Linked DNA regions of Homo sapiens. The protein of the gene in region 4 interacts with the protein of the main gene of each other region in a pairwise test. Each region holds a gene or a part of one and is shown on either strand. Other genes may lie near its edges. The genes, in order: IFT88, PPP3CA, TRIM54 and ITPKB.

The links.
Region 1: the proteins of ITPKB (region 4) and IFT88 interact in binary tests that used the Homo sapiens proteins (3 or more experiments, as listed by UniProt).
Region 2: the proteins of ITPKB (region 4) and PPP3CA interact in binary tests that used the Homo sapiens proteins (3 or more experiments, as listed by UniProt).
Region 3: the proteins of ITPKB (region 4) and TRIM54 interact in binary tests that used the Homo sapiens proteins (3 or more experiments, as listed by UniProt).

Annotation. Positions count from the first base shown.
Region 1 is NC_000013.11:20,569,607-20,577,599, reverse strand, and holds part of IFT88 (intraflagellar transport protein 88 homolog), read right to left. Parts: intron 4,580-7,993; exon of another isoform or gene 4,449-4,579; intron 3,231-4,448; exon of another isoform or gene 3,221-3,230; coding exon of another isoform or gene 3,215-3,220; coding exon 3,125-3,214; intron 1-3,124. UniProt on the Homo sapiens protein: Positively regulates primary cilium biogenesis. Also involved in autophagy since it is required for trafficking of ATG16L and the expansion of the autophagic compartment.
Region 2 is NC_000004.12:101,092,018-101,100,010, reverse strand, and holds part of PPP3CA (protein phosphatase 3 catalytic subunit alpha), read left to right. Parts: intron 1-288; coding exon 289-400; intron 401-1,498; coding exon 1,499-1,644; intron 1,645-6,095; coding exon 6,096-6,235; intron 6,236-7,993. UniProt on the Homo sapiens protein: Calcium-dependent, calmodulin-stimulated protein phosphatase which plays an essential role in the transduction of intracellular Ca(2+)-mediated signals. Many of the substrates contain a PxIxIT motif and/or a LxVP motif.
Region 3 is NC_000002.12:27,298,763-27,306,755, reverse strand, and holds part of TRIM54 (tripartite motif-containing protein 54), read right to left. Parts: intron 7,512-7,993; coding exon 7,340-7,511; intron 7,227-7,339; coding exon of another isoform or gene 7,101-7,226; intron 1,798-7,100; coding exon 1,702-1,797; intron 1,173-1,701; coding exon 939-1,172; intron 677-938; coding exon 654-676; intron 544-653; coding exon 419-543; intron 301-418; coding exon 215-300; 3' UTR 214-214; exon of another isoform or gene 188-213; intron 1-187. UniProt on the Homo sapiens protein: May bind and stabilize microtubules during myotubes formation.
Region 4 is NC_000001.11:226,637,844-226,645,836, reverse strand, and holds part of ITPKB (inositol-trisphosphate 3-kinase B), read left to right. Parts: intron 1-3,711; coding exon 3,712-3,916; intron 3,917-6,178; coding exon 6,179-6,280; intron 6,281-7,993. UniProt on the Homo sapiens protein: Catalyzes the phosphorylation of 1D-myo-inositol 1,4,5-trisphosphate (InsP3) into 1D-myo-inositol 1,3,4,5-tetrakisphosphate and participates to the regulation of calcium homeostasis.

The DNA.
Region 1 (7,993 bases), on a different chromosome or scaffold from region 4:
GATGCTGAAAAAGCATTAGGTAAAATTCAACATCCCTTCATAAAAACCCTAAAAAAAAACTGTGTATAGAAGAAACATACCTCAACGTGAAAAAAGTCATGTAACAGACTCACAACTAATATACTGAATGAAAAAAAACTGAAAGCCTTTCCTTTAAGATCTGGAACATGCCAAGGATGACCACTGTCACCACTGTTATTCAACATAGTACTGGAAATCCTAGCTAGTGCAATCAGGCAAGAGAAAGAAATAAAGGGCATCCAAACCAGAAAGGAAAAAGTCAAATTACCCTAGTTTATAGATGATATGATCTTATATTTGGAAAAACATAAAGACTCCACCAAAAAACTATTAGAACTGATAAATTCAGTAAGGTTGCAGGATACAAAATCAACCTACAAAAATCAGTAGCATTTCTATATGTCAAAAGTGAACAATCTGGAAAATAAATCACGAAAGTAATCCCATTTAGAATATCTACGAATAAAATTAAATATCTAGAAATTAACTTAACCAAAGAAGTGAAAATATCTACAATGAAACCTATAAAACATTGGTGCAAGAAACTGAAGAGGACATAAGAAAATGGAAAGATGTTTCATGTTCATAGATTGGAAAAACCAATATTGTTAAAATGTCCATACTACCCAAAGTAATCTACAGATTCGGTGCAACACCTATCAAAATACCAATGTCATTATTCACAGAAACAGAAGAAAACATCCTAAAGTCTATATAGAACTACAAAAGACCCAGAATAGCCAAAGCTGTCCTGAGCAAAAAGAACAAAACTGAAGAATTACATTACCTGACTTCAAATTACACTATAGAGCTATAGTAACCAAAACAGCATGATACTGGCATAAAAACAGACAGACTAATGGAACAGAATAGAGAACCCAGAAACAAATCTAGACATCTACAGTGAACTCATTTTTGACAAAGGTGCCAGAAACATACATTAGGGAAAAGACATTCTCTTCAATAAATGGTGCTGAGAAAATTGAATATCCACATGCAGAAGAATGAAACTAGACCCTTATCTCTCACCATATGCAAAAATCAAATAAAAATGGATGAAGGACTTAGAAATCTAAGACCTCAAACTATGAAACTACTAAAAGAAAACACTAGGGAAACTCTCCAGGACACTGGACTGGGCAAAGATTTATTGAGTAATACCCCACAAGCACAGGCAATCAAAGCAAAAATGGACAAATGAGATCACATCAAGTTAAAAAGCTTCTGCACGACAAAGGAAACAATGAAGTGAAGAGACAACCCACAGAATGGGAGAAAATATTTATAAACTATCCCTCTGACAAGGGATTAATAACCAGAATATGTAAGGAACTCAAACAACTCTGTAGGAAAAAATCTAATAATCTGATTTAAAAATGGGCAAAAGATCTGAATAGATATTTCTAAAAAGAAGACATACAAATGGCAAGCATGTATATGAAAAAGTGCTCAACATTATTGACCATCAGAGAAATGGAAATCAAAACTACAACGAGATGTCATCTCATTCCAGTTAAAATGGCTTTTATCCAAAAGACAGGTAATAACAAATGGTGGTGAGAATGTGGAGAAAAGGGAACCCTCATATACTGTTAGTGAGAATGTAAATTAGTACAACTACTATGGAGAACAGTTTAGAGGTTCCTCAAAAAACTAAAAATAGATCTATCATATGATCCAACAATCCCACTGCTAGGAATATACTCAAACGAAAAGAAATCAGTATGTACCAGGCCGTTCTTGCATTGCTATTAGGTTGGCGCCAAAGTAATTGCAGTTTTGCAATTAAAATGGCAAAAACTGCAGTTACTTTTGCACCAGAGAATGCTTGAGATTGGGTAATTTATAAAGAAAAGAGGTTTGATTGGCTCATCGTTCTGCAGGCTGTACAAGCATGATATCAGTATCTGCTCAGTTTCTGGGGAGGCCTCAGGGAGCTTTCACTCATGACAGAAGGCAAAATGGGAGCAGTCACATCACATGGGGTGAGGATGGCACCAAGAAGATCATGCTAAACCATTCATGAGAAATCCACTCTCATGATCCTATCGCCTCCCACCAGGTCTCACCTCCAATGCTGGGTATTACAATTCAACATGAGATGTGCGTGGGGATAAATATACAAACTCTATCACAGTATATCAAAAAGATATCTGCACTCCCATGTTTGCTGCAGCAGTATTCACAATAGCCAAGATTTGGAAGCAACCTAAGTGTCTGTCAACAGACAAATGGATAAAGAAAATGTACATATATACAATGGAAAACTAGCCATAAAAAAGAATGAGATCCTGTCATTTGCAATAATGTGGATGGAACTGGAGGCCATTCTATTAAGTGAAATAAGCCAGGCACAGAAAGACAAACATCGCATGTTTTCACTTATTTCTGGGATCTAAAAATTAAAACAACTGAACTCAAGGAGATAAAGAATAGAAGGATGATTACCAGAGGCTGGGAAGGGTAGTGGCAGGGGAGGGGGTGAGAATGGTTAATAGGTACAAAAAAAAAAACAAAAAGAAAGCGTAAGATCTAGTATTTGATAGCAAAATGGGGTGACTATAGTCAATAATTTAATTGTACATTTAAAAATAACTAAAAGAATATAATCGGATTGTTTGGAACACAAAGGATAAATGCTTGATGTAACAGAAACCCTATTTACCCTTATGTGATTATTACACATTGTATGCCTGTATCAAAATATCCCATATTCCCCATAAATATATGCACCTACTATGTACTCACAAAAATTAAAACCAAAAAACAAGACATTTCAACTTTAAAATTTTTCTTAAAACCCTAATTTTAAATACTTTCAGGTGATCTAAGTCTTTTACACATTTGGATAGCTAGTGCTGAAGAATACAAGTATATATAATTCACCTTAATTCATTTTTGTAACCTGTCTCATGATCTTTCCTTCTGCTGCAATTATTATTTTTGGTGGAAGTCAGTAGAGTCTTCTGTAATAGCACTTTTCTAGGTTTTTGAATCAGCTTATTTAATCTAAAGCATAATAAAGTAGAACTCTCAAATCCACAGTCTTCATAAACCAGCTGGTTAACCAAGACCAATGTAAAAAACAACTAGCTTTTGTTACCTCGATATCATAGATTGGATTGTAGTCATTATAGCCGGAATAAAGATCATCTTCATCTGTCTCTGGAGCCAGGTGCACATTTTGCATCATTTGTACCTAGGAAAAACTGGCAGTGTAAATATGTTCTTGGTATAAGAAATATATATATATATTTTTTGAGATATGTCTTGCTCTGTTGCCCAGGCTGGAATGCAGTAGCACAATCACGGCTCACTATAGCCTTGATCTCTCTGGCACAAGTGATCCTCCCACCTCAGCCTCCCTGGTACTATAGGCTTGTGCCACCACACCCAACTAAGTTTGAAATTTTTTGTAAAGATGGGATCTCCCTATGTTGCCCAGGCTGGACTCAATTTCTTGAGCTCAAGTGATCCTCTCACTTTGGCCTCCCAAAATGCTGGGATTACCAGCATGAGCCACCACGCCAGGCCAGAAATAATTCTTAATTCCAATAAAGTATAACTATTTAATGACATTTGTGGTCAAATTTATCTATATATATTTTCATGGCTTCAATTTTTTTCACATCAAATTCCCAAAACTAGATGTCAAAACATTAAGTTATTGTCCTCATTTCACATTTATTTCACAACTACGACACTGAAAGAACAGTGACAGGCACTAGAGGGGGTACAATTGATTGTCCTGATTTTCATGGAAGCTTAGTATCAAGTGCAGAAGAAAGGTATGCAACAGTCAATTAAAATGCAAGGCAGAAGCCACCACATACCCATCAGAATGTGTAAAATTAAAAAGACCAACAACACATAATGTCAGCAAAAATGTGGAGCAACCAGAGTATTCACACGTTGCTGATGGGAGTGTAAAATGATACACTTTGGGAGAAAAGTCTTGCAGTTTCATAAAATTAACTTTTATTAAAAGTACCTTTTATCACCCAGCAATTCCACTCAAAAATATTTACTCAAGAGGAATGAAAACATATGTCTACAAAAAGATTTGTATAAGAATGTTCATAGTAGCTGTCGACCTAAAGAAAGGAATTGAGGCATAAAATACAATTCTAAAAAGTTTACTTGAGCCAAAATGAGGACGGCTGCCTGCCCAGAACACTCAGACTTCATGTAACCTTGGACAGGCGCTCCATTTGGCCTTTGTTTCAAGCAGATCTTTAAAGGCAAAAAAGTGGGGCAGGGAGTGGGCTGATACAAAGCTGTCTGTCAGAAATTCTCACTGGTTTAAAAAAATAACGTTGATTAGTGATTGGCTACATTGTATGGGTTATAGTATCCAGACAGTGCCATTGTTAGATTAATTTATAGCTACTTATGGCAATAGCAAGCAAGTTTCAAGACATGATTACTTAGCCCAAGAAGGTAAAGGAGATGTGACTGCTGTTTCACTCCCACGCCTCTCTGGACCTGGTAATTTAGAGGAGAGTCTCATTCTTCAAATTAAACCTTTCTTTTCTTTGTCATAGCTTTATTCATAATACTGAAAAATCAGAAACAAACCAGATACCCATCAGTAAAATGGACAAGCAAAATGTGGCATACTTACGCAATGAAGTACTATCCAGCAATAAAAAAGAATCCCAATTATGCTGAGTGAAAGAAGCCTTACATAGAGTGTACATTATGCACTGTTTCCTTTATATGAAGTTCTCAAACAGGCAAAGCTAATTTGCGGTAGAAAACCATCAGAACTGAGATCGCTTCTTGGGGATGGGGGTTAGGGATTGAATGGAAAGGGACATGAGAGAATTTTCTGGGGTGATGATAAATGTTCTGTATCTTGGCAGGGGTTTGAGTCGCACAAGTGTATGCATTTGTGAAAACTCAGCAAATATACACTGCGATTTCTGCTTTGTAAATTTTACCTCAAAAGTAAGAACTATAAACAAATATTGAACTATATAATTGATACGCATGCTGTTATTTCAGGGAACATGTAATAGCTGTAATTTAGCTTAAAATACATAAAATAAGACAGCTTAGGCCGGGCGCCGTAGCTCATGCCTGTAATTTCAGGACTTTGGAGGGCCAAGACGGGTGGATTACTTGAGGTCAGGAGTTTGAGACCAGCTTGGTCAAGATGGTGAAACCCCATCGCTACTAAAAATACAAAAACTAGCCGGGCATGGTGGTGCACATCTGTAATTCCAGCTATTTGGGAGGCTGAGGCACGAGAATCGCTTGAACCCAGGAGGCAGAGGTTGCAGTGAGCTGAGATCATGCCACTGCACTCCAACCTGGGTGACAGAGTGAGACTCTGTCTCTAAAAAAAAAGATGGCTTGATAGATGGATTGAGAGATAGGTAAATGGATAAGTACATGATAAAGCAGCTATAGAAAAAGGTTAATGGTGGAATCTAGGTAGCAGGAGTAACATTCAACATAAAATTCTTTAAACCTTGCTGCATGTTTGAAAATTTTCATAATGAAATGTTGAGGGAAAAAATGCAAGACAGAAAAAAAGATATCAAAGCAAAATGAAACAGAAGAGTGAAAGCTGATCATACAAATTTGAGTCATTCTTGTCATACCCAACTAAAACAGAGTCAAGAAGCTGGGGTGTGTTGGTGGGGAGGCACTCAGGACACATAACATTGCTTGAAGAATGGAATTCTCTGCAAGTCTGGCTGCTGAAACTGGCTGCTAAAACCTGAGGCCAATTTTATTTATAGCTGCTGAGATAACTTGCTGCAAATATAGGACTAATTGTGCCCACCACAGCTACCCACCAATTAGAACTTGCCAGCTTCCCAGAACCTCACTAGTTCCAGTGAACTTTCTCAAAGAGCACTACATGACACTTCTCCTTTTGATAAACCTCCAACCTTCTCTTTGTTCTTTGGACATACCAAAGACCACCTGGTCCTCAAACTGCAATTCTTTCTTCCCAAATAAAAATGTAAAATTTCAAGATTCATCTCTACATTTTGACTTGGACAGAAGCATGGGAGAAATGAAATTACCATATAGATATACTGTAAATCTAATAATTACTAAAGAATCTGGCAAGGATTCCTGGAAGTATCATTCAAATCAAGTCAATATTTTAGGCAATTTGAGGGGTGGGAGGTGGAGGAAGGCTAATTACCCAAGAAATGTAGTATTGCTAGTATTCAAGAAATGTATTTTCTTTAAAGCAAATACATATTTTCTTAAGGCCTGTACATTTTAAGTGCACCAGCAAATTCCTAAGAAATTTTCAGCTTAGGCTGGGCGCAGTGGCTCACGCCTATAATCCCAGCACTTTGGGAGGCCGAGGCAGGCAGATCACGAGGTCAGGAGATCGAGACCATCCTGGCTAATATGGTGAAACCCCGTCTCTACTAAAAATACAAAAAAATTAGCCGGGCATGATAGCAGGCACCTGTAATCCCAGGTACTCAGGAGGCTGAGGCAGGAGAATGGCCTGAACCTGGGAGGCGGAGGTTGCAGTGGGCCGAGATTGTGCCACCACACCCCTGCCTAGGCGACAGAGCCAGACTCTGTCTCAAAAAATAAATAAATAATAAAAATAAATAAATAAAAAATAAATTTTCAGCTTAATCTTTTTCTCAGCATAATACCACATATATGTGGCTTCTCATAACCTTTAAAAATTATTTATATATTTTAAATACTAACAAAATTATTAGTTTTTGAACTATAATTCATATACCATACAATTTAACTTTTCAAGGTGCAGTGGTTTTTAGTATATTCACAAGGTTGTGCAACCATCCCCAGTATGTAATTCCAGAACACTTTCATCATCCCATAAAGAAATATGGGGCCTGTTAGCAGCTCTCCATGCCTCCCTTCCCTTTCCCCAGTCCCTGGCAACCATTTTCTGTCTCTATGGATTTGCCAATTCTGGACATTTCATATTAAGGAAATTACACAATATGTAGCCTTTTGTGTCTGGTCTCTTTCACTTAGCATAATGCTTCCAAGGTTCATCCACGCAGTAGTATGTATCAATATTTCATTACTTTTTATGGCTAAATACATCTGCAACATTTTGCTTATCCATTCATTAGTTAATGGACATTTGAATTGTTTCCACTTTTTGACTTTTATGAATAACATCACTATGAATGTGTGTGTACAAGTTTTAGCATGCATATATAGGTCCAATTCTATTGGGAATATATCTAGTAAAGGAATTGCTGGATCATATAGTAACTCTATGTTTAACTTTTGGAGGAACAGCTAGACTGTTTTCCAAAGTGGCTGCACTATTTTACATCCCACCTGCAATGCATGAAGTTTCCAATTTATCCATGTCCTAGCCAACATCTGTTACTGTTCCTGTTTTTGATTATTGCAATTCTAGTGAGTATGAAATGGTATCTCATTGTAGTATTGACTTGCATTCCCCTGATGACTAATGATGTTGAGTATCTTTTCATCTGCTTATTATCCATTTCTATATCTCTTTGGAGAAATGTCTGTTCAGATCTTTTGCTCATTTTTTTTTTTTTTTGAGACGGAATCTTGCTCTGTCGCCTAGGCTAGAGGGCAGTGGCGCGGCTCACTGCAAGCTCCGCCTCCCAGTTTCACGCCATTCTCCTGCCTCAGCCTCTCGAGTAGCTGGGACTACAGGCACCCGCCACCAAGCCCGGCTAATTTTTTTATTTTTATTTTTATTTTTATTTTTAGTAGAGATGGGGTTTCACCGTATTAGCCGGTATGGTCTCGATCTCCTGACCTTGTGATCCGCCCACCTCGGCCTCCCAGAGTGCTGGGATTACAGGCGTGAACCACCGCGCCCGGCCAGCTCATTCCCAAAAATCAGGTTATCACATGAATTATAAGGATCCTGTATATATTCCTGATACTAAACATTATATAAATGATTTACAAATACTTTCTCCCATTCTGTACATCATTTTACATTCTTTGTACTATCCTCTGA
Region 2 (7,993 bases), on a different chromosome or scaffold from region 4:
TCAGGTCACATAATTCTCCTTCTGTTGACCATATGTAATCCATTGTTTTCTTGTGGTATATGATCCTCAGTGCGTGTATGTATGTTTTAGGTGTAGATGGACCTTGGCTTTTTACCAAAGTAATGTTTCCTATTTGATTGTCAATATCTTCTCTACTAAGTTCCAGCCTTTTGGGGGACTTTTGGTCATGGTAATACATTTTATTCATGTCTTTATGATATGTGAGCAATGAAATGCATAAGTGTTAAGGAAAAATATTTATTTTTATATTATTTTTATTTTTCTCAGTGTGTGCTGTATTTGTGGGCCTTGAAAATTCTCTACCCCAAAACACTGTTTTTACTTCGTGGAAATCATGAATGTAGACATCTAACAGAGTATTTCACATTTAAACAAGAATGTAAGTATACTTCAACCTCCTTCCTTTAACACTATATGTGCTAAAAAGTAATTTTAATCAATAATAAGATACATACAATATGATCTATTGCCTAAAGTCAAAGACTTAAAGTGACACTCTTTCATATTATCCTATATTTCTTTCTAAGCATGGACATTTATGAGAATTCAGAATTTCTTTTTAAATTAGAACTTCTTTATAAAGTGATTGAAGAATTTGAATTAAGATTTGATGTAATTTATCCTAAGAAACAAGTGATTTAGGGATGCTACTGTTTGGAACAATAATTCTACTCATTAATCTCACATTACTCAAAAAACGCAAATGGAGGGCAAATTCAACCCTATGCCTCTGTTTTGGACCCAATAAATGAATACTAGCTTCTAGTGAATCTTATAAAACTGAAGATGATGTCATTCTTTAGACATAGACACTAGGAGTGTGGAGTGCTTTTTTCAATTTCTTTTTCCTCCTTACAATTTTTCTTATTATTCACTGAATCTTACAAAGGTATAAAACCTTACATTTTTGTTTTATGTATAAATACAGTTAAATGGAAGAGCTGGGAATCTCTCTATACATATCAATATTTTTCTCTTTCATTTAGTCCTATATTCAATGGAGCATAAAGACTTCTCCTCTTAAAACATTAGATATAAGTCATGGGAAAAGCAATGTGCAGTAAGATAGAAACAGCTTTAGGAAATGTCTTGCCATCTGCTTTTCTACAAAATCGTTAAGGAATATCAAGCAGCTTTATGGCTGTTTTTCTATTGGTCTTCCAGTTGTTCATGTACATTTTTTTGGTGAGACGTCTGCAGATAAATAGCCAGAATGTATATAAAAATTCTCTTGCTATACAAAACGTTATGAAAATTATAAAGTATGAATTAATAAATGACAAAAACAGGAAATACTAGATATAAAAGATTAATATGTTACTTTCAGAAAATCTTAATTATGTTTTGGAATTTTGTAGTATGTGCCTTTATGTTAATAATAGGGTCCTAGCAAGAAAACTTCTCAAAAAACCAAAACTATTTCAGTGAAATGATCCTGCCTATAAATCATAAGTATTCTTTTAATCACTTCTAAAAGGTAAAATAAAGTATTCAGAACGCGTATATGATGCCTGTATGGATGCCTTTGACTGCCTTCCCCTGGCTGCCCTGATGAACCAACAGTTCCTGTGTGTGCATGGTGGTTTGTCTCCAGAGATTAACACTTTAGATGATATCAGAAAAGTAAGTTTTGTTATTTTCCAAGTCTAATCATTTTGTGCGCTACAGTAATAAATAGAAGACATTAATTACCCTGCCTTTATCACTGACTTTATTCTTTTGAGTTCAAATAATTTAAAGTGGTCATGAATCGCTCCTTTGTGTTAAATTTTTATCTAGAAAGAGAGATATGTTTATACTTGGAAGAATTTTTATCTCTACAACCTCAGGGTTGGTCTTACCATCTGACATGTGTCTTTGGAAATATAAAATATTTGACCTCTAAAAAAAATATGCCTTATCATTTCCATTTGGCTTTTTTCAAACAATCCGTTGTATATTCATGATGTGTTATGCTAGAAATGTTGCTTTGCCCTTGGGAAAATATCATAACATAACCATTAAACTGTGCTCATTTTATGGTTTTTTAAAAATCTATTTGTTACAACTTGAGACTTTTAAGTAGCAATCTAACAAGGACAGTGATAATATTTTATTAATTTTACTGAGTGGCTGAGTGAAAAACTGGACTTTTTAAGAAGTATTTGTAAGAAGTTTTTAAGAAATACTCCAGTTTAGCATTGGCTATTAACAGTTGTTTAAACCAGCAAAAAGATGAGTTACATTGAATGTGGAAGTGGATTGTGTCTCTTTCTTGAGTAAATCTAGTAACATGGGATAGTTTTATGTAGTACAATAGATAGACAATCTTTTATTTCTTTGGTATGTTTCTAACTCTGATTGCAATGATGTAAAAGATAGAGAGTAATAAAAAATCGCAGTGTATTTTTCTTGGTGCCAAAATCGGACCAAAGGGAGAAAGTGATGTAAATGTTTTCTTAGGTCATTTTAAAATAATATTACTTGGAATTATTTTAAAGTATGATAATTTCTTCACATTGATATTTATAACATATGTTATTGAAAATTTGTGCCCACCATTAAGCTTTCTATCTAGGAAATCTAAGCCAAATTTTTTCTGGAGGAATTATAAACAGTTGAAAACTGTATTTATCTTCTTTCCTCTACTTTTAGAGACCTAAGAAAATACGCTTGTACTTATCCCATAGAACAGAGGGGTGAAAATAATTCTAACCTTTTATTATTATTCTCACCAGTAATTTTAGCAAGAATAAATTGGTCACATTGTTCTAAATTACTGTATTTGAACTATAAAGATTGGAATTTTGCTGAGATTTCTTCTAAAGATACATACTACTCAGTATATATTTAAGCCTAATGTATGATAGGTAGACTTTGGCTTCAAATAAGTGATGCACTAATCTCAAGGTGTACAGAATTTATTTCTTAAGTTATAGGTTCACTTAAGAATAACCATGGGCACAGTTCAAATTCTAGATCTTGCTTATCATTAGGGGCATTCATACAAAGACTCCCTTGGTGTCACTTGTTTGATTGATTGCCATTTAATTGTTTTTTTCCATTTCTTCTGAGTTTGGAAACTTGATTGCTAAGTCTGAGAAGTCTATATGATGAACATTTGCAAGTTAATTCTATCAGCTGCCATAAGTTATTAAATTAGTAAACAGTGTTTTCCCATTGTGTTCAGTGGAGAAGGAAAGCAAATATTTTATCTATTCATGTATCCATGTATCATATTAACCTGATAACCACTTATTGAAATAGGTTTGGAAAATGAAAAGTCAAATTACAAATAAGTATAGTAGTTTCTGTTAGCAAATGATGGGCATGAAAGACATGCATTTATGTTTTATTCTCTTGCCTTGATCAAATTTCATGGCCTTGGATGGAAGATGAGAAACTTACTAAGTGTCCTCCTTCAAAGGGGGATTAGTGAAAACTTCCCTCAAAATAGTGTTTTAATTATTTGAACAAAACTGATACACTGAATAGAGTTCTATACTGTAGAGAATAAATAGAAAGGATAAGGCTATTGTACTATTTTGTTTAAGACGCAATCACCAGCAAAAAGGTTGTAAACCTCTACTACAAAATGAATAACCATTTTCATATAGCTCTCATTTGTAGTGTTTCTTTAATACTTTTGTTAATGAAACTCATGGTTTTGAGGAAATACTTTAGTAAATTATGAATGTATTTGCATACCATAAGTCTCTACTACCATGAACTCAATATTCTTTTAAAGTTCATTAGTTTTTAGAGAAAAATTATTTTCAGGTAAAATAAAACATTCAAGTTCTTCCTATCATTGAGGTTCAAGTGTTCAAGTATAAAAATAATGTGTTTACTTTCCTATTGGAAAGAAAATGCATGCTTTTTATTTTAAAATTCAAGCGAAAGCACAATAAATAAACCTTGTTTCCTGCTCTGTGTCTTTGTGTCCATTTTTGCAAGACACTATTTCACACTTCTATAGAGCATAGAGCATTGGTCTTTGCTCTATATTTAAAGTACAGTAGAGATGTGATGCTGGTTCAGTATAAAATTGTTTCTTTCTGGGCCAAGCATGGTGCCTCACGCCTGTAATCCCAGCACTTTGGGAGGCCGAGGCAAGTGGATCATGAGGTCAGGAGTTCGAGACCGGCTTGACCAACATGTTGAAACCCCATCTCTACTGAAAATACAAAAATTAGCCAGGCATGGTGGCGCGCGCCTGTAATCCCAGCTACTCAGGAGTCTGAGGCAGGAGAATTTCTTGAACCTGGGAGGTGGAGGTTGCTGTGAGCCGAGATCGTGCCACTGCACTCCAGCCTGAGTGACACAGGGAGACTCCGTCTCAAAAACAGAAATGTTTCTTTCTGCATGAATATAACTAGCTCATTCTGTAATCTGATGGATTTTTTTTAAGTAAATAAACTTCACATCGTAAATTAAGTAGATTTTTTAAAATATCACCTAATATCCCTAGGACTTACTTCCCAGGATATTTTAGATATTATATTCAATTTTCATACATATCATTAAGCTCTGCACATGGCCAGAAAATGATTTTTAAGTTTTTATCTTGCCATATATCAAGTTTTTTTGTATTTGTTTATTTTTACTGTCAATTATATTAACTTTTAGAATGCACTGTATACTTTTTCCAGAATAAATGTTATATTCTGGTAGCTTTGCAGACCTTTAGTTGGGGATTCATATTAATCAGAAACTTTCCCCTCCTCTACTGTCCTACCCTTAATAAGTTATTGTTTTTCAGAAAGAAGTTCTGTATTTTTAGGGACAAGTATTATTTTTCTTGAATGTATTGTTCCAAGAGCATAAATTATTTAAATCTCTTAAACAAGTTTAAGTTTGCAATGAATATTTTGTGGCTAACATAATGGTTGAAATGTAGTCTTGTTTTATTGAAGTTTTTCATTGGGTATTGAAAACATAAAATATTGCCTCATTCTCTATAGATACTAATAAAAAGTAGTGTGCAACAAAACCATTACTTACATCTTGTATGTCCCAGAAAAAAAAAATAGACAATTTGATTAGTTGTAAGCAAAATATGTTCACTTGTCTTCATTGGATTTTTAAAAATATCAATATGAAGAATATCAATTCTTAATAGATTTTCAAAGCTATTGCATGCTTTTATTCAAGAGCCTTTATAATATCTGCTGATTCACCAAAGATCCTTTAATTGCAGTTAAATCAGGATAAACTAAAGTGTTTAAAATTGATCGTGATATGTTATTTCCAGTGATGATATTTCTAATATGCCTTCTAAATGCACCTTTTAAAATTGAAATGTGACTTCACTAAACATTTATAGCTGGAAAATTGATTTCATATGAAGGCTTCAGGTAAAATTATAAAGCTTAGAACTGTGAACTGAAGAATGACCCGCTAAAGTTGAGTTTATTTTACTGCTTATCATTACTCATATTTGTACCCACTAAGATCAACTACAGGAGGCTTGTAGTTTATCATTAGAAACCTAGATAGCCCATAATGAAATAGTATCCAAAATATCATATAGCAAGTGGCTACTTTTAAAGTAAAAGCCATCTTTTCTCAAAATCATGTTCTTAAATATAAAAAAATAACATAAGCATGAAAACTAGGAGTTGTTTTCCATCCAAACTTCTAAATCACAGTTTAATAGAGGCAGTAATAGGAATTTTCCCAAAGAAAGTAATTCTCAATAAATGAAACAGGGGTAGAGTCATAATAACTGGTCATGAAAAAAACATTTGGATAGATAAAGTAAGTAAGGAGAGAAGGATAAAATGTAGAATAGGAGAAATGAGAAACTGCGAAATCTAGAGATAATAGAGGCAAGAGGAAGGTAAAGGGTTAGATGAAGATAGATACTAAATGATCTCATCAGAAGGAAGCTGGAAAGAAAATTGGAGAGAGATGAAGGATAGGAAAACGAGTAGGAAGAAGGACAGGAAGAGAGAGAGAGGTAGAGGACATTTCACCCTGAGCTGTAGCTGGGGAGAAGAGGATGGGTTCTGCACAGTGCTTGTTTCTTGTATTGTCAGAATTCTAAGTTTCCAAAGATTAGTATTTTGCTCTCTGTCTTCTATTTTTCTTAGTTAGACCGATTCAAAGAACCACCTGCATATGGACCTATGTGTGATATCCTGTGGTCAGACCCCCTGGAAGATTTTGGAAATGAGAAGACTCAGGAACATTTCACTCACAACACAGTCAGGGGGTGTTCATACTTCTACAGGTAAGAATAGAGAACTTGCTCTCTGGAACACGTTTGCATCATAATGCTAGGATTTATCAGTCCATGTGTTTGATTTATTTATAATGTTTGTATTACTTCTTTAATATAAATGAAAGGCTCACTAGCATTTATAAAATGAAAATATAAATAAATGAATAAGTGAGTAAATAAATGTGAAATAGATATGTATACATATACAGGTGTACCTTGGGGATGTTAAGGGTTTGATTCTAGACCACCACAATAAAGCAAATATTGCAATAAAGCAAGTCATTATTTTTTTGGTTTCCCAGTGCATATAGAAGTTATGTTTACACTATACTGTAGTCTATTAAGTGTACAATAGCATTGTATCTAAAAAAAAAAAAACAAATGTACATACCTTAATCAGAAAATACTTCATTGCTAAACAATGCTCATGATCATCTGAGCCTTCAGCTAGTCATAATCTTTTTGCTGGTGGAGGATCTTGCCTCGATGTTGATGGTTACTGACTAATCAGGGTGGTAGTTTCTTTCTCAAAAGAAGACATTTATGTGGCCAAAAAACAATGAAAAAATGCTCATCATCACTGGTCATTAGAGAAATGCAAATCAAAACCACAATAAGATACCATCTCATGCCAGTTAGAATGGCGATCATTAAAAAGTCAGGAAATGGATGCTGGAGAGGATGTGGAGAAATAGGAACGCTTTTACGCTGTTGGTGGGAGTGTAAATTAGTTCAACCATTGTGGAAGACAGTGTGGCGATTGCTCAAGGATCTAGAACCAGAAATACCATTTGACCCAGCAATCCCATTACTGGGTATATACCCAAAGGATTATATATCATTCTACTATAAAGACACATGTATATGCATGTTTATTGCAGCACTATTTACAATAGCAAAGACTTGGAACCAACCCAAATGCTCATCAATGATAGACTGGAGAAAGAAAATGTGGTACATATACACCATGGAATACTATGCAGCCATAAAAAAGGATGTGTTCATGTTCTTTGCAGGGACATGGATGAAGCTGGAATCCATAAGAACTATTATTTTTGCCCCAATGCAACAAAGTATCACAAGAACAGAAAACCAAACACCTCATGTTCTCACTCATAAGTGGGAGTTGAACAAAGAGAACATATGGGCACAGGGAAGGGGAACATCACACACCAGGGCCTGTCAGGGGGTGGGGGGCTAGGGGAAGGATATTATTAGTATAAATATCTAATGTAGATGACGGGTTGATGGGTGCAACAAACCGCCAGGGCACATGTATACCTATGTAACAAACCTGCACATTCTGCACATGTACTCCAGAACTTAAAAAAAACTCCAGTATTAAAAAAAAAAAAACTGTACCAAAAAAATCCAACACCAGCCTTGTTTTAATTCAATTATGTTATCACATTTAAAAGTTTTACCAGTTTCTGTAACTCAGATCAGAAAAACAACTTTACATTGGTTAAATCAATCATTTAATTCCTTCTTACATTTGTTTATCAGGCTTCCTGGATAAATTAAAATAAGCAGCTTTACAGTATATAGGAACCATAGTATATTTATTTTTAGGACTTTGACAAGCCAAGTTGAAAATATTTTTATAATAATTTTTACATTTTACAAATCGCTAGAGATTTACCCATTACATGACATTTTATAACACTTCAGAAAGGAATCTGCAACACGATTAGGTTTCTGCATGACCTCACTGTCTTCCTATCGTGTCACCTCAGTTTTATCCTCCCAGATGTGATCTTCCTCAGT
Region 3 (7,993 bases), on a different chromosome or scaffold from region 4:
CCAGAGGAACAGCGGGTGAGGAGGAAAGTGTACTTTTCCGCCCTAGGGGGCGCGCCTTTGTGGCTCCGGGGTTGGGTTGCACCGAGGAGTGGGGGCTCCACGCTACCCGCAGGGAGGGCAATCACTGGGGGAGGGGACGCGAGCACACCAGCCAGGCCCCACCCCAAGCCCCTCAGGCCGCTCTCACCTTAAGGCCCATCGGGCGGCTCTCACCTTAAGGCCCATCCGGCCGCTCTTCCTCCGGCCCCGCGCTGCCCTCCTCTCCGTCTGGGGCCACCTCCTCTTCCTCCCCGGAAGCGCCTGAGCCCAAGGAAGGCCTGGTGAGGTGGAGTCCCTGCCTTTACGGCCATCGTGCCCGCCGCACCCCCCACACAGAGGGTCCGAACCCGTCTCAGCGGCCCTCGGCCACCTCCTTCACCTGGCTGGAAGTCGATGGTCCGCAGCATTTCGGCCACGTGCTCCACCCTTACGGTGAATTGCTCCATGCTCTCATAGCCTGGCTCCGGCCGCCCTGCCAGCTCCACCTTCGACATGGCCCCGACCCTGCAGTGGCCACACGGACTCAGCTGGCAATGCCCCAGCACTCTCAAGCCCCACCCCAGCCAGTGGAGCAGTGCAGCCCCCTCCTTTCCCTTCCCGCTATGCCTACTCACTTATTGATCAGCTCCTTGGCCTGCTGCAGGGAAGAAAAGGAGGGTGAGAGTAAGCACTGGGCCAACCTGGGCAAAGTCCCATTTCTGAATCTCACCACAGTCCTGCGGGGTAGGTGGGAAGGCACGTCCCAATTCGTTAAGCAGAAAACGAACTCAGAGGGGGTGACTTGCCCAAGGTCGTAGGGGCAAGCAGGTGCAAGAGACAAGACTTGAACCCGGGACTCCAGGTACCAAGGCCCTGACTCCAGCCACTGTGCAGCGCTGCCACCCTCCCCTAGAGCCCACCTGGAGATACAGCGCCATTTGTGGCTCTTCCATGGACTGGATGGCAGACTCCACCAGCTTAGAGGAGGCCTCCAGGTGGTCGCCATACTGACGGATGAGGCCGCGGACGCGCTGCAGCTTCTCCTCTTGCTCCCGGGCCAGCGCCTGCAGCAGCTCACCCTTGCGCTCCTCCAGCACTGCGCACAGGCTCTCAAACCTCTGGTTTAACAACTGCTTCTGCCTCCGGCTATTGTCCTAAAAGATGGGGAGCAAGGATGAGGGAAGGCGTGGCTGAGACCCGGTGGCTGGGAAAGCACAGGGTACTCACAGAGAACCAACACAGAAAGTGACCCATCCGTAGTGACACTGTGAGTTAGTGGCTGAGCCAGAACCCAGCCCAGATCTTTTCCATAATAAAAACACAATGCTTTAAAGTAGCTTCACTGATTGCTGTCTATATCCCTAGCCCTGGTTTTTATTTGCATTATTCCATTTAATTCTCAAAAAGAACCCATGAGGTAGCTGGTGTATCATTATCATCATCACTGTTTTATGAGGTTAAACAAAACCAAAGCACAGAGAAGTTAAATAACTGGATTAAAGTTTTGCGGCAAAGCTGGAATGCACACCCAGCAGCCTGGCAAAAGCACCTCCCACCACTCCCAGGACCCCAGAAACTTTCAGACCAGTTTGGCGAGAGGTCAGAGAGGAGCAGTTCTCTTGGGAGCCCGGGGTCCGCAGGCTAGCCAGTTGCTGTTCCTCCCTCCCTCCAGCCCAGGCTCACCTCGATAGTCTGGCACACCTCCTCCATCTGTGTGATCACTGCTTGCACGCGGTCATTGCCTGCCACCAGCATCGCGATGCCATCGCTGAGCTCACTCTGATACACACACAGGTCAGCACTCAGAGCTGGGACCTGGCCTAGAGCTACACCCCTCACCCCAGCCAGGGTTGCCTAGGAGAGGGCTGGCCCTTCCACCTCACCCCCCATAAGGGCATCTACAGCAATCTAGAAGGCTTGAACCATCAAGAGGTACGGAAGCACATTCTAGTGATTCTGGAAGGAGGTGGAGAGAAGCCCTCCACCACTAAGTGGGGAAGGAACAGACAGTCTCCAAACATCCACCAGATACCAGACACTGGGCTAGATACTTTATCTGTAGATTCATTTCTTGCATCGATTCTGAGAAAGTCTTCAAGATTATCCATTGGCATAATATTGCCTCTTCTCTATTCTCTTTATCCTCTCATTCTGGGAATCTGATTAGACCTGTTAGACCTTCTCACTCTCAGCCTTCTCATCATCTCCCAGAACTGCACGTTCTGTTTTTCTTTCAGTCCTCTCATACTGGTCACTAGTTCTGTTTTCAGACAAATCTATCATTCAATTCATTCGTTGATTTTTTTTTAAATTTTTTTTGAGACGGAGTCTTGCTCTGTCACCCAGGCTGGTCTCGAACACCAGGCCTTGTCCTCCTGCCTCAGCCTCCCTAGTCACTGGGTTTACAGGTTCCAGCCACCATGCCCAGCCATCTGTTGAATGTTTTATATCTATCTATCTATATATATATATATATCTGTATATCTATATCTATCTATCTATCTATCTATCTATATATATATATTTGAGACAAGGTCTCACTCTGTCACCAAGGCTGGAGTGCAGTGGCTCGATCTCAGTTCACTGCAGCCTCGACCTTCCAGGCTCAGGTGATCCTCCCACCTCAGCCTCCCAGGTAGCTGGGACTACAGGCGCATGACACCACGTCCGGCTAATTTTTTATATTTTTTTGTAGACGGGGTTTCAACATTTCCCCAGGTTGGTCTCCAACTCCTGGACTCAAGTGATCCTCCCACCTCAGCCTCCCAAAGTGTCGGGATTACCGGCGTGAGCCACCACACCCAGCTACATGGTTGGTTTTTGATATTCTATTATTGTTTGGTTTTTAAAATTTTTCATCTTTTTTTAAAAAGCATTTGATTTATAGTGACTTCCAATTATTTAATAATTCCAATATCTCAGTTGCTTTTGTGGGGGGTCCTAAATCTGTATTTTTTGTTTCTGCTGACTTCACTCATGGATTACGTTTCTCTGTGCACCTTCAATTGTGATCTAATATTTTATTGATATTAATTAATCTAGGGAATACCTACGGGCCTAAATTGTGCATATTTTCCTCTAGGCAGTATTTGCATTTGCCTCTGTTGAAAGCCAGGTGGCGCAATTTACTGCTTTAGCTCCTAGGATCCTAGTTTAACCTACGGTCTCCGGAAACTTTTTTTTTTTTTTAGACGGAGTCTCTCCCTGTTGCCCAGGCTGGAGTGCAATGACGTGATCTCAGCTCACTGCAACCTCCGCCTCCTGGGTTCAAGCGATTCTCCTGCCTCAGCTTCCCGAGTAGCTGGGATTACAGGGCCTGCAACCACGCCCGGCTAATTTTTTGTATCTTTAGTAGAGACGGGATTTCACCATGTTGGCCAGGTCTCAAACTCCTGACCTAGTGATCCGCCCGCCTCGGCCTCCCAAAGTGTTGAGATTACAGGCGTGAGCCACTGCGCCCAGCCGGGTCTCTGGAATCTTAGCTGCAGGTACCCCTCCTTTTAGGGGTTTGGAGGAATAGTCTGGTCTCTCTAGCTCAGTGACATTGCCAGCACTGGTCCTCTGCGAAATGCTGCCTTTTCTGTGCTTGCCACTCAGGGTTCTGCTTTCAGCTCCGCCTTTTCTCTTCGCCCCTCCCCACCCCCACTGATTTCCTTTGCTTCTATGTACCAAGCAATATAATTTGAAAATTCTGTTTTACACAGAATCTAGTTGTGTGATAGAGAGGACCCTGCAAGTATCTCACCCACCATACTGAAGTCTCTGCTTTCATCCATTATCGAATTTTATCCTTATAGCTACTTTCACAAGTAGGCATTTTCACCCTAATTTTACACATGAGGAAAGTGAGGGCCACAAAGGTCCAGTAACATACCTAGGTGACACACCAAGTCAAGCACAGAGCTAGGACTTTGACTCCAATCTGCTTGACTTTTATTTTATTTTCGAGACAGAGTTTCACTCTTTTTGCCCAGGCTGGAGTGCAATGGCGCAATCTCAGCTCACTGTAACCTCCGCCTCTGGAGTTCAAGTGATTCTCCTGCCTCAGCCTCCCGAGTAGCTGGGATTACAGGCGACTGCCACCATGCCCAGCTAATTTTGTATTTTTAGTAGAGAAAGGGTTTCACCATGTTGGCCAGGCTGGTTTGGAACTCCTGACCTTAAGTGATCCGTTCACCTTGGCCTCCCAAAGTGCTGGGATTACAGGCATGAGCCACCACGCCTGGCTTAATCTGCTTGATTTTATTTTTATTTACTTATTTTATTTTAGGTATTATTATTATTATTATTTTTAGACGGAGTCTCGCTCTGTCGCCCAGGCTGGAGTGCAGCGGCCCGATCTTGGCTCACTGCAAGCTCTGCCTCCCAGGTAAACAATTCTGCCTCAGCCTCCCGAGTAGCTGGGACTACAGGCGCCTGCCACCACGCCCGGCTAAGTTTTTTGTATTTTTAGTAGAAATGGGGTTTCACCGTGTTAGCCAGGATGGTCCCGATCTCCTGACCTCGTGATCCACCCACTTTGGCCTCCCAAAGTACTGGGATTACAGGCGTGAGCCACCGCGCCTGGCCTATTTATTTATTTTTGGATGGAGTTTTGCTCTTGTTGCCCAGGCTGGAATGCAATAGCGCAATCTCAGCTCACTGCAACCTCCGCCTCCCGGGTTCAAGCGATTCTCCTGTCTCAGCCTCCCAAGTAGCTGGGATTACAGGCACATGCCACCACACCTGGCTAATTTTTGTATTTTTAGTAGAGACAGGGTTTCATTATATTGGTCAGGCTGGTCTCGAACTCCTGATCGCAGGTGATCCGCCCGCCTCGGCCTCTTAAAGTGCTATGATTGCAGGTGTGAGCCACCGCCCGGCCTGCTTGACTTTAAAACTAAGTGGAGTAACGCTTTGGGAGGCTGAGGTGTCAGGGGCGTTTGAACCAGAGCAACTCCATCTTGAATAGGGGCTGGGTAAAATGAGGCTGAGACCTACTGGGCTGCATTCCCAGATGGTTAAGGCATTCTAAGTCATAGGATGAGATAGGAGGTCGGCACAAGATACAGGTCATACAGACCTTGCTGATAAAACAGGTTGCAGTAAGGAAGCCGGCCAAAACCCACCAAAACCAAGACGCCAATGAGAGCGACCTCTGGTGGTCCTCACTGCTACACTCCCATTAGCTCCATGACAGTTTACTAATGCCATGGCAATGTCAGCAAGTGACCGTATATGTTCTAAAAAGGGAAGGCATGAATAATCTACCTCTTGTTTAGCATATCATCAAGAAATAACCACAAAAATGGGCAACCAGGCTGGACCCGGTAGCTCACACCTATAATCCCAGCACTTTGGGAGGCCAAGGAGAGTGGATCACCTGAGTTCAGGAGTTTGAGACCAGCCTGGCCAACATGGTGAAACCCTGTCTCTATTAAAAATACAAAAATTAGCCAGTCATGGTGGCGGATGCCTGTAATCCCAGATACTTGGGAGGCTGTGGCAGGAGAATCGCTTGAATCTGGGAGGCGGAGGTTGTAGTGAGCTGAGATCGCGCCATTGCATTCCAGCCTGGGCGACAAGAGCGAAACTCCATCTAAAAAAAAAAAAAAAAAAAAAAGAGGGCAACCAGCAGCCCTAGGGGCTGCTCTGTCTATGGAGTGGCCATTGTCTTATTCCTTTACTTTCCTAATAAACTTGCTTTCACTTTACTCTATGGACTAGCCCTGAATTCTTTCTTGCGCGAGATCCAATAACCCTGTCTTGGGGTCTGTGTCAAGACCTCTTTCCTCTAACAGAGGCAGGAGGATGGCTTGAGCCCAGGAATTCAAAACAAGCCTGGGCAACACAGTGAGATCTTGTCTCTTTTTAATATTGTATGTTTGTTTTTGAGACAAGGTCTCACTCTATCACCCAGGCTGGAGTGCCGTGGTGCAATCATGGCTCACTGCAGCCTCAACCTCCCGGGCTCAAGTGATCCTCCCACCTCAGCCTCCCGAGTAGCTGGGACTACAGGCATGCCACCATGCCCAGCTAATTTTTTGTAGAGACAAGGGTCTCACTATGTTACACAGCTCAGGCTGGTCTCAAATTCCTGGACTCAAACAATCCCCCTGCCTCGCTCTTCTAAAGTATTATTAGTACTACTACTACTAATAAATATTATTATTAGTACTACTACTACTAATAAATATTATTATTAGTAGTATCCTCCCAAAGGATTACAAGTGTGAGTCACTGTGCCCTGCCTGAGACCCTGTCTCTATGTAAAAATAAAAAATTAGGTTCGGGCGCAGGGGCTCACGCCTGTAATCCCAGCATTTGGGAGGCCAAGGTGGGTGGATCACCTGAGGTCAGGAGTTCCAGACCAGCCTGGCCAACATGGTGAAGCCCCGTCTCTACTAAAAATACAAAAAATTAGCTGGACATGGTGGTAGGCGCCTATAATCCCAGCTACTCTGGAGGCTGAGGCAGGAGAATTGCTTGAACCTGCGAGGCAGAGGTTACAGTGAGCCGAGATCGTGCCATTGCACTCCAGCCTGGGCAACAAGAGCAAAACTCCATCTCAAAATAAATAAATAAACAAATAAATAAATAAATAAAATAAAATAATTAGCTGGTCATGGTGGCACATGCCTGTAGTTCCAGCTACTTGGGAGATTGAGGTGGTAGGGATCACTTGAGCCCAGGAGTTCAAGGCTGCTGCAGTGAATCACAATCATACCAGTGCATTCCAGCCTGCGCGACAGAGATCCCCACATCTCTTAAAAAATAAATAAATGGAGCTGGGCGCAGTGGCTCACACCTGTAATTCCAGCACTCTGGGAGGCCAAGGTGGACGGATCACATGAGGCCAGGAGTCAAAAAAAAACCAAAAAACAAAAAAGCTGGGTGTGGTGGCACATGCCTGTAATCCCAGGTACTTGGAAGGCTGAGGCATAAGAACAGCTTGAACCCGGGAGGCTGAGGTTGCTGTGAGCCAAGACTGCACCACTGCACTCCAGCCTGGGCGACAGAGCGAGACTCCATCTCAAAATATGATAGATAGATAGATAGATAGATAGATAGATAGATAGATAGGGCTGAGTGCGGTGGCTCACATCTATAATCTTAGTGTTCTGCGAGGCTAAGATGGGAGGATCACTTGAGCTCGGGAGATCAAGGCTGCAGTAAGTTGTGTTTGTGCCACTGCACTCCAGCCTGGGCAACAGAGTGAGATCCTGTTTCTAAATAAATAAAGAAATAAGTAAACAAAAGATAAGTGGAGTAAGAGGCTGACACTGAGACCCTGTCCTAAGCCCCCATCTCTCACATATCTACTCCCTCCCCTGTTTGATACCTTCTGGCGTTTGTAAATGGTGGGCAGTGGGGCCACCTCACAGTCCTTGTGGGCACCGAAGACCTTGCAGAGAGAGCAGGTGGGCACCTCACAGCTCAGGCAGTAAATATTGATCTTCTCTTCTTCATGCTCCTCGCACATGAGGTGCTGCTCAGCCTTGGAGTGCAGCGGCCTAGAGAGGAGTGGGCAGGGGGAGGTGGACCTTAAGCATGAAGGGTCCTAGGAATACCTTCTCTTCAGCCTCCACCAACTGCCACCACCTTCTCCGCCCCTGCAGCTAGTGCTGTGGCTGAACTGGTGAGTACTTCCACAGAGCTCTGAATTTGGGGAACAGAAGGAGCTAAGAGATAGAGGAGGCCTGGATCCGAGAACAGTCTGTATTACAAGGGGGCAGGGAAGTCCCACAGGACAGGAAGTCTTGGAGGGTTAGCGAGGATCTTGCTGGTGGACTGCCAGCCTCTCCCAGGAGGAGAGGGTAGGAGTGAAGTACTGGCTAGGGAATCAGAGACTGCCCTCTCTGGGAGGCCTGAGGCAAGTCCCTCTCCGGATCCAGTCCTATGGTCTCTAGACAGAACAGGCAGGTTGACCGTTTCAATCTCTCCCTTTTGGCTCTGATGGGTTCCTTGGCTGTGTCCCAAGCCCTGTCATGAGAGA
Region 4 (7,993 bases):
TGGCCACCTCCCTCCCACCATCCAAGTTCCTTACTATCTTTAGCCCACAGGGACCTGGGATAGGGCAGGGAGGAGAAAGAACATGCCCCCAGCCAGCCCGAGGCCTTTGCTTTTCCCGAGTCTGATTTCTGACCCAGGATGGCATCCACTGGTGCACCAGAATGTGTCCTCTCAGGGGAGGCCCAGCCCTTCCTTCCAACCCAGACAGCAGCAGGACTTCGCAGGTGACCACATGGAGAATAATCCAAGTGGTGTCCACTCAGACCTGGCCAAAAAAGTACGGCCTGTGTGAAGAACACTGGCTGGGCATTTCTGGAAGTCGGCTGTCCCAAAGACACAGCCAGCCAAGCACAGGGCCAGGCTGCCCCAGAACCTGCCTGCTCCTGCTGGGGACAGGAGCCCCGCTTCCTGCCCCAGGGCTGCCCCCACCCAGCCGCTTGACTTCCGCAGCTTCTCTCTGATTGCACCCTAGTGCTCTCAAGAGAGATCTAGAGTGACCGTGGCTGGTACCCATGTAACCCATCTTGGCAGGCAGAGGGAAGAGGATGAGAGAGGAGTATGTGTGGAGGGGAAGAGGAAGGTCTCCCCAGAAGCAGGGTGCACCCAGCCCGATCTTTCCTGCACACAAATCCTAAGGACCCTTCTTGTTCCAAGGGCTATGCTAGATGCTTCCATTATTTATCCCATTGCGTTCTCACCGCCATTCTGGGAGATGGGTCATGTTCCAGTGTAAGCAGGAGGGTTCTGTCACCAGGAGGTTCAGTGACTCATCAGGGCCACCCAGCCAGGCAGCAGCTTGGTGCAGTTCTGCACCAGGCTTGCTTGACTGCAAATCAGGCCCCCAGCTGCAGCCCAGCCCTTCCCAAGGGGGCTGTGTGGGACCCAGCTTCCATGGCATTTCCCTGGGGTGCCAGGCTAGTTCCATTTGGGCCATGGACTGTGCCTTCCCCCAAATGCGTTCATCCAGAACCCTTGGCTGCAGGGCCTCTCCCAAGACTGGCTGCTCATGGTCACCTCTAGAATGTGGCCTTTCCATGACAGGGTGAGGAGGCTGGAGCCCAGGGTTACCTCACATGCTGAGTCCCAGGGCAAGAGAGTTTGAGACATGTCACAGAGAAAGGGAAGGGCCGGTCACCAAACAATGCTGGGCATGGCGGGGGCAGAAGGGTGGCACTAAGGAGAATGTGATGCAGTTGCTGGTGGCGTCTGCACGTCGGGGCTTCTTGGGACTCTGGCTCCCGCCGACATGTGCTCAGTGGCTCTGGGGCATGCTCTGAGATTTGTGACTTGTCCTGGAGAGTCAACACTGTCTTCCTGACATTGGGACCAGGGGCCTGGGGAGTGCAGGTGAGAGCCCGCCCCTAGCACCTAGGAGCTCTGGGTGGCTTTCGCCTGCCACCTGTTGGCTCCCTGGGCTGGCCTGTCTCAAAGGAGCACTTCCTCCACCTGATCTTGAGTCCCCTCCTCCCCCAGCGTCCTGTGAGTGGGCGAGCAGGTCTCTGCTTCCCTGCATGGCTTGGAGCTTCGACTTTGTCTCGGGCAGGCAGGGGAGTGTGGGGAGGGGCTGAGCCTCACCTTCCTGTGGGCATCCCGCCCCACCATCCAGCTGGCACCCCCTGTGGACATCTCCCCCCAGCCTCTTTCCTCTCCTGGGCAGTGAGTGACTGCCCGCTTTGAGCCACGGGGGCCCTTTTTGGAGAAAGGCCATGTGAAAAGGGATTTCACATTGAGGTCTGCTTCCTGTTTAAGGGGGTGCTGAGAGCTCTTTGCAGAAGTGCAGCCACCCACCATGCGGTCCCCTACAGCGCCCTCAGGAGTCCCTCCCACAGCCTGGCTGCCCCTTTTCTACACAGTACACACATGGATGCACACGCAGCCCCTGCCTCAATGCCCCCGTCACCACTGACCTGGCTCTGCATGTGAGGGGTGTGCTCTGTGCGTGTCCTGCATGGGTGCACCTGTGTGTGTGCAGTGGTGCACAGGAGTCCGCGTTTATGTGCATGTGTGTGCATGAGCACATGTGTGTGTATGTGCGCACATGGTTGTGTGTGCATGCAAGGGCCCAACCCAAAGCTACTGACTTCCCCCTCCAGCCCTCATCACCTCCTGGAAGGTCCTAACCAGCCAGGCCTAAGTTCACACCCAAAGGATTTGTTTTTTTCTTCCCTTTTCTTTCCGTGCAAATTTCAATTAATACAGTGGTTTCTAAAGCCTGTCATTTTTAAGAGGCTGTAGTTTTTGTTTAGTCTGTTCTGGGTCCCAAACCAGCAACTTGGAGAAGTTGGTGGGCAGTGTTGGAACAAGGCCTGGGAGACAGATGCAGGAAGAGTGGAGGGCCAGGTGGAGGGCAGGCGGGCGGGGCCTCTGTGGGCAGCTCCCGCCCACACAGGGCAAAGGGGAGAAAACTTCCCCATCCTGCAACTGACACTGCTGATTTCTGCCTCCTCAAGGGCTGTGGGCAGCCTCTGAGCCTGTTGTGTAGGGAGACTGGGGCTCTAAAAGGAGAGCAGAGGAGCGGGGGTGGGATGACTCACCCCACCTCTGCTCTGGAGAAGGTAGAAGCGCAGAGCTGTGTGCTGGGGGAGGTGGCGTGTCCCGGCAGCTCAGGGCCAGCGATTCAGCCCCCGGCTGCTCAAGTGCTCTGCTGTCCCTGCCCCTGTTACCTTCCCCAGTGTCTAGGTGGTCCCCGCCAGTTCAGCTGGAGCTGCTCGTGTGGAGGCCAGGGCCGTGAGGCAGTTGAGTTGGAAGCATTTTCTCAGGCTTTTTGGACTGGGGGCTCACCTATGAGGAGGCCTGGTGTCGATGGGGTGGGGTGCACCAGGCATGTCTCTGGGATGAGCAGAGGCTGAGGGAGCCCCCTGCCTTTCCCCCACAATACGGCCTTCTCCATCCACACTGGGACCCCTTCCAAGGCCACTTTCTGACCTGAACTTTGTGCTCCAGAAGATTTCACCTCTTTGGAAAGAGCCAGAGACACTTATGGGCAGGCTCAGCCTTCAGGCTGCCTGAGAGCAGCAGAGATGGGGACTTGAGGACAGACCACTTCTCCCACCAGGACAGGTTCTGGCTTTGGAAGCCCTCGCTTTATGGAAGGGCCGAGGCAGCCAAGGGGATCTAGTGGGGCCCTGAGTAGACCCTGCCCCCAGTCCCCTCTCTTAGCTCCACCGTAGCAGCAGGATCAGGACCAGCCACCCCCGACACCCCCTGCTGCCCTGCCTCCGTCTTCCTTCTTCTGCTGGTTCCTGTGGGGGTCTCCCGAGGAGGAGCTCCTTGGGCTTTGTGAGGCCAGCCGATGGGCTTGGAGTGAAAGTGAAGGCAGTCCGATTCAGTGAGGCTGCACCTTTTCTCCTGGATCAAGAGCCAACCCCAGGCTGGGTGGTGGTGCACACCTGTAATCCCAGCACTTTGGGAGGCCAAGGTGGGAGGATCACTTGAGGCTAGAAGTTTGAGACCAGCCGGGGCAACATAGCGAGACTCCCTTATCTACTAAAAAAATTGTCTAAAAAAAAAAGAAAAGAAAAATTAGAGCCAGCCCCAGCTGGAACAGAGTCTGCCGTCCCCTCGGAAAGACGTGCCTTGACTCAGGGCACTGAGCTGACTGCAGCTGTTGGGCAACACACGCCCCAAACCTTCATCCACCAGGCAGGAAAGGAGCTGCTGGTGAGCCCTGCCCCAGGCCTCGGCCCTCATGTCGCCTTCCCTCCCACGTAGGACCTACCTGGAGGAGGAGCTCACGAAGGCCCGGAAGAAGCCCAGCCTGCGGAAGGACATGTACCAGAAGATGATCGAGGTGGACCCCGAGGCCCCCACCGAGGAGGAAAAAGCACAGCGGGCTGTGACCAAGCCACGGTACATGCAGTGGCGGGAGACCATCAGCTCCACGGCCACCCTGGGGTTCAGGATCGAGGGAATCAAGGTGAGGCCGGCGAGTGAGGGCAGCCTCGGGCCCCACCCGTGCCCACCTCAGGGGGCTTGGCTTCTCTCAGCGCCCTTTGGAAGCTGTAAGCTTCTCCAGGCACAGGCTCAGAATGTGGGTGGCCCGCCCCAAGGCCAGACATTTGGAGACATCAGCCTATTCCTCAGGCGGGATGGCTGTGTAGGGGGCTCAGGCCTCAGAGCAGAGTGGCTTCTAGCCCTGCCCAGCTGTCAGCCCTCTGCCGAGGACTCTCCATTTAGCCCAGACGGTGCCTGGCACCGAAAGCCAGGCGAGAGGCACCTGCGGGATGCCTGTGGGGTAGCTGGTTCATTCTGCCATGGCTGCAAACTGGGACTGGCAGACAATTCGGGGAAGGGAGGAGCATGCTGACCGCCTTTGATGTTGGAGCCAGGGTCTCTGAGAAACTGCATTCTCTCTGCTTTGCTCTTCGATCTTTTTTTGGAAATTTTAAAATATTTATTGGAACAGAAATAGAAACATAAGCTCCAAAGAAACAACATGACAAACTTTATAAGTAAATGTAATTTTCCCCTAATTAATATATTTACTTTGTGTTTGTGGTTTACAAAATGATGGCTCTTTCCCTTCTATCCCTTTGTACCTATGTGTATCTGGCAGGAAAGTTCTTAGCTCTGGCTATGGGCACACAGAAGCTTCCTATACATGATTATGTTCAAATGTTGATTTACTTTCCCCAGAATAAATTGGGGAACTGGCACTGTCTGGATTGGTGACTGTCTGGATGATCTCCCTGTCCCTGGGCCCCTGTGTGCACCCTTGCTGTTAAATTTGCAAGAGCCGGGCTTTGGGGCGCCGGCCCCTCAGGGTCTCAGAAGCTGTCCCTCTTGAGCAGATGGCAGTCCCTGTGGGGTTGTCGGGTCTCCCATTCTCTGTCCAGTCATGGTCTGCATCATCTCCAGTGTCCAGCCTGGAGTCAGGGTTGGGCAGCCGATGGTCCTGATGGGAGGGTCCCCTGAGCCTCCTTTCAGATGGCATTTAGACGTAGCTTCCGCAGCTGTCAATGGCTCGCTGCCCACGGTGGCATGTGGGGAAGTTTTTACCTTCCCCCGGGACAGCTGCTTTGCGAGCTCTGGGCTGAGAAAGGCATTTGCCCCCTTCTTTGTCTTTTGAAACCAGCCCTTCCCTCTTTTTTGCATCCAGCTCTGAGACTGGATGCAAATTCCGTACCCATCCGCCTTCTCCTTAACGCTCGCTTTCCTTTCTTTATTAGAAACAATCCACTTTCCCTTCACCTCTCCCTCTCGAGCAGGATGTGCTCCTGGTCTCTGTCTATTGTCCAGCCGTCAGAACAGCCGACAGCCTGTCTTCCCACTCAGAGAGAAGCCAGCTGTCTTCACCATCACCTGCCTGCCCCGCCCTTAGCTAAGAGGCTCTGCCTGGGGTGCACTGCCCACAGCCCCCGGCTCTCGGCCCCTCCTGCACCCAGGGCTGCTCCCTCAGCCCCAGGTCCTGCCAGTCCTGTCGAAGGCAGCCACAGTGAGGACACAGCTGAAGTACTCTCCAGCCTGAGGGCAGACACGGCCCACTGTTGGGACTCCTGGTGGAGCATTCCCTTTGTCCCTAAAGAACAGATTTCCTCATAGGTCAGCAAAGCCCCACATGAGGGCCCAGGACAGCCTGAACAGAGATAGTGCTGGGGCCAAGAAGATGGGAGTGGGGTGGGCGAGGGAGCAGAGATGGGCAGGGCTGTATTGGATCCTGGCTTTCAGAAAACGTGAAAGAAGAGATGGTAGATTATAAAGGAAGTCAAGCTGAGCTCAGGGCGGGAGCAAGTCTCTCCTCCCTGTGCTGAGGGGAGGTGCCTCTGGCGGGCAGGGACCTCCGGGCACCGGTTCCAGGGCCCGGGCCCCAGAGTGGGAAGTCGAGGCCGACCCTCTCTCTTGGCCCTGCTGTTGCACCCAGGACAGGCCAGCCCCGGGTCATGCTCCTCCATCCTCAGCCTGGATGCCCTTCACACCTCCGGGCCTTTCCTACCACTGTTCACTCGCCTGGGGATGTCAGCGCCACCCTCTGCGTTCTCCTGTGTCTGGGCACAGGGCAGGCTCCCCTCTGCTGTGCACGCCACCTCCATGCGCCATACGTGGACACCTGGGTGCCTCCACTGGCCCTGCCCCAGGTTCAGATGGGGCTCGCCTGCTCTGTGGTGTTGGGTGGGTGAGAACAGTTTCTGCCCGAGGGTCCCTGCTGACCCCCTCCTGGGTGGGGTGTTCTCTTTCTCAGAAAGAAGACGGCACCGTGAACCGGGACTTCAAGAAGACCAAAACGAGGGAGCAGGTCACCGAGGCCTTCAGAGAGTTCACTAAAGGAAACCATAACATCCTGGTGAGTCTGGCACCTCCAGAGAGGGTCTCTCCAGCCAGCCAGGGAGGGACAACTGTGTCTACTCTGGAGGTGCCCATGGGGAGGACAAGGCACCCCCAGGGACAGCACACCCCAGCCCGAGTTCGTAGGGCTCTGTAGAGAGGCCACTGGCAGAGACTTTTGTGGCTCTCTCACTCTGCCCTTTCAAAAGTCAAAGGCACGCCGGGCACAGTGGCTCACGCCTGTAATCCCAGCACTTTGGGAAGCTGGGGCAGGTGGATCACCTGAGGTCAGAAGTTTGAGACCAGCCTGGCCAACATGGTGAAACTCCATCTTTACTAAAAACACAAAAATTAGCCGGACATGGTGGCGCATGCCTGTAATTCCAGCTACTTGGGATGCTGAGACAGGAGAGTCACTTGAACCTGGGAGGCGGAGGTTGCAGTGAGCTGAGATTTTGCCATTGCACTTCAGCCTGGGCAACAAGAATGAAACTCTGTCTGGGAAAAAAAAAAAAAAAAAAGTCAAGGGCACTGAAGTTAGTACCCAGGAAGGTTTGTATCCATCCTGGCCCCAGGCTTCTGCTTGGAAAGTAAAGAAGAAGGCGATGTGCTTGTCCCTGGCGTGCGGCGGGTAGGCGGGGAAGCTTGGCGGACACTCACTGACTCTCCCTTAGCCATCGGCCCCATAGCTCCAGAGAGCATTTCCCATGCCCTGAGAGAGAGAACAGTGCCCGCCGTCTGCCAGGTGTCATGCCAAGCGTGCAGCAAATCTTCACAGCAGACCTGCTGTGGGTAGACCTGCTTGTCCCCATCTTGTGTGCCCGAGGTCACGCTGCTCCCTGCCAGCAAGAGCTGGCGAGCTGTCTCCGAGTCCAGGAGTGTGGGTTGTACAAGTTCATGACAAAGTTCTGTCTTGTGTGTTGCTGCTGCAGCGGCTCGCAGACTGGATAGATGCTCTGCCCACAGGGACCAGAGCACTGACCCTTCCAGCTGAGTCAGGGAATATTGTGCCACTGTGCCCCAAGTGCACGGCTCCCTGGGACAGTCAGAGATCCAGGCACATCTGGGACACGGGCCCTGGAGCCCCTGTGAATGGCACCTTCTGAACAGTCCACAGCAGCTGCAGAGCAAGTGGGGGCGGACCAGGCAGCCGTTTCTCCAAGGAGACTCAGTACCGGCTGGAACTGGGAAATCTTCCTTTTCCAGCTGGGGAGGCTTCCCTTGGCTCCTGGCAAGCTCTGAGGCTGCAGGCAGGGGGAATGTGCCTGACTCTTTCGTAGCCCAAGTCCTCCAATTCCTGAGTCCCTTGCAGGGGAGGATCTCAGCCCCTAAGCAGTGGCCACCATGGAACATGCCTCCTATGCCTGGGGTTTGTTCCTGGTGCTGAAGACTCCAGGGGGCTGCTCGGCTGGCCCGGCCAGCTGTCACTCTTTTCCAGCAGGCATTGAGGAACTCTGTGTACCTGTGTATGACGAGCTTCCCAAGGCAGCCCGGGGGTGAGACCCACAGAGCTGGCTTCTGGGGAAGATGGGGCACCCCCCAAGGCCAGCAAAGCTTGACATGGGTTTATAGGGCTCCATGGAGAGGGCACTGGGAGAGATATTTGTGGTTCTCTCTCTTACCCTGTCCTTTCAAAAGTCAAAGGTACTGACATTTATGCTGAGAAAGACGCCACAGCAGCCCTGCTCGCAGGAAGCTGCCTCTAGATGTCCGGCGTTTAGGGTAAAGCACA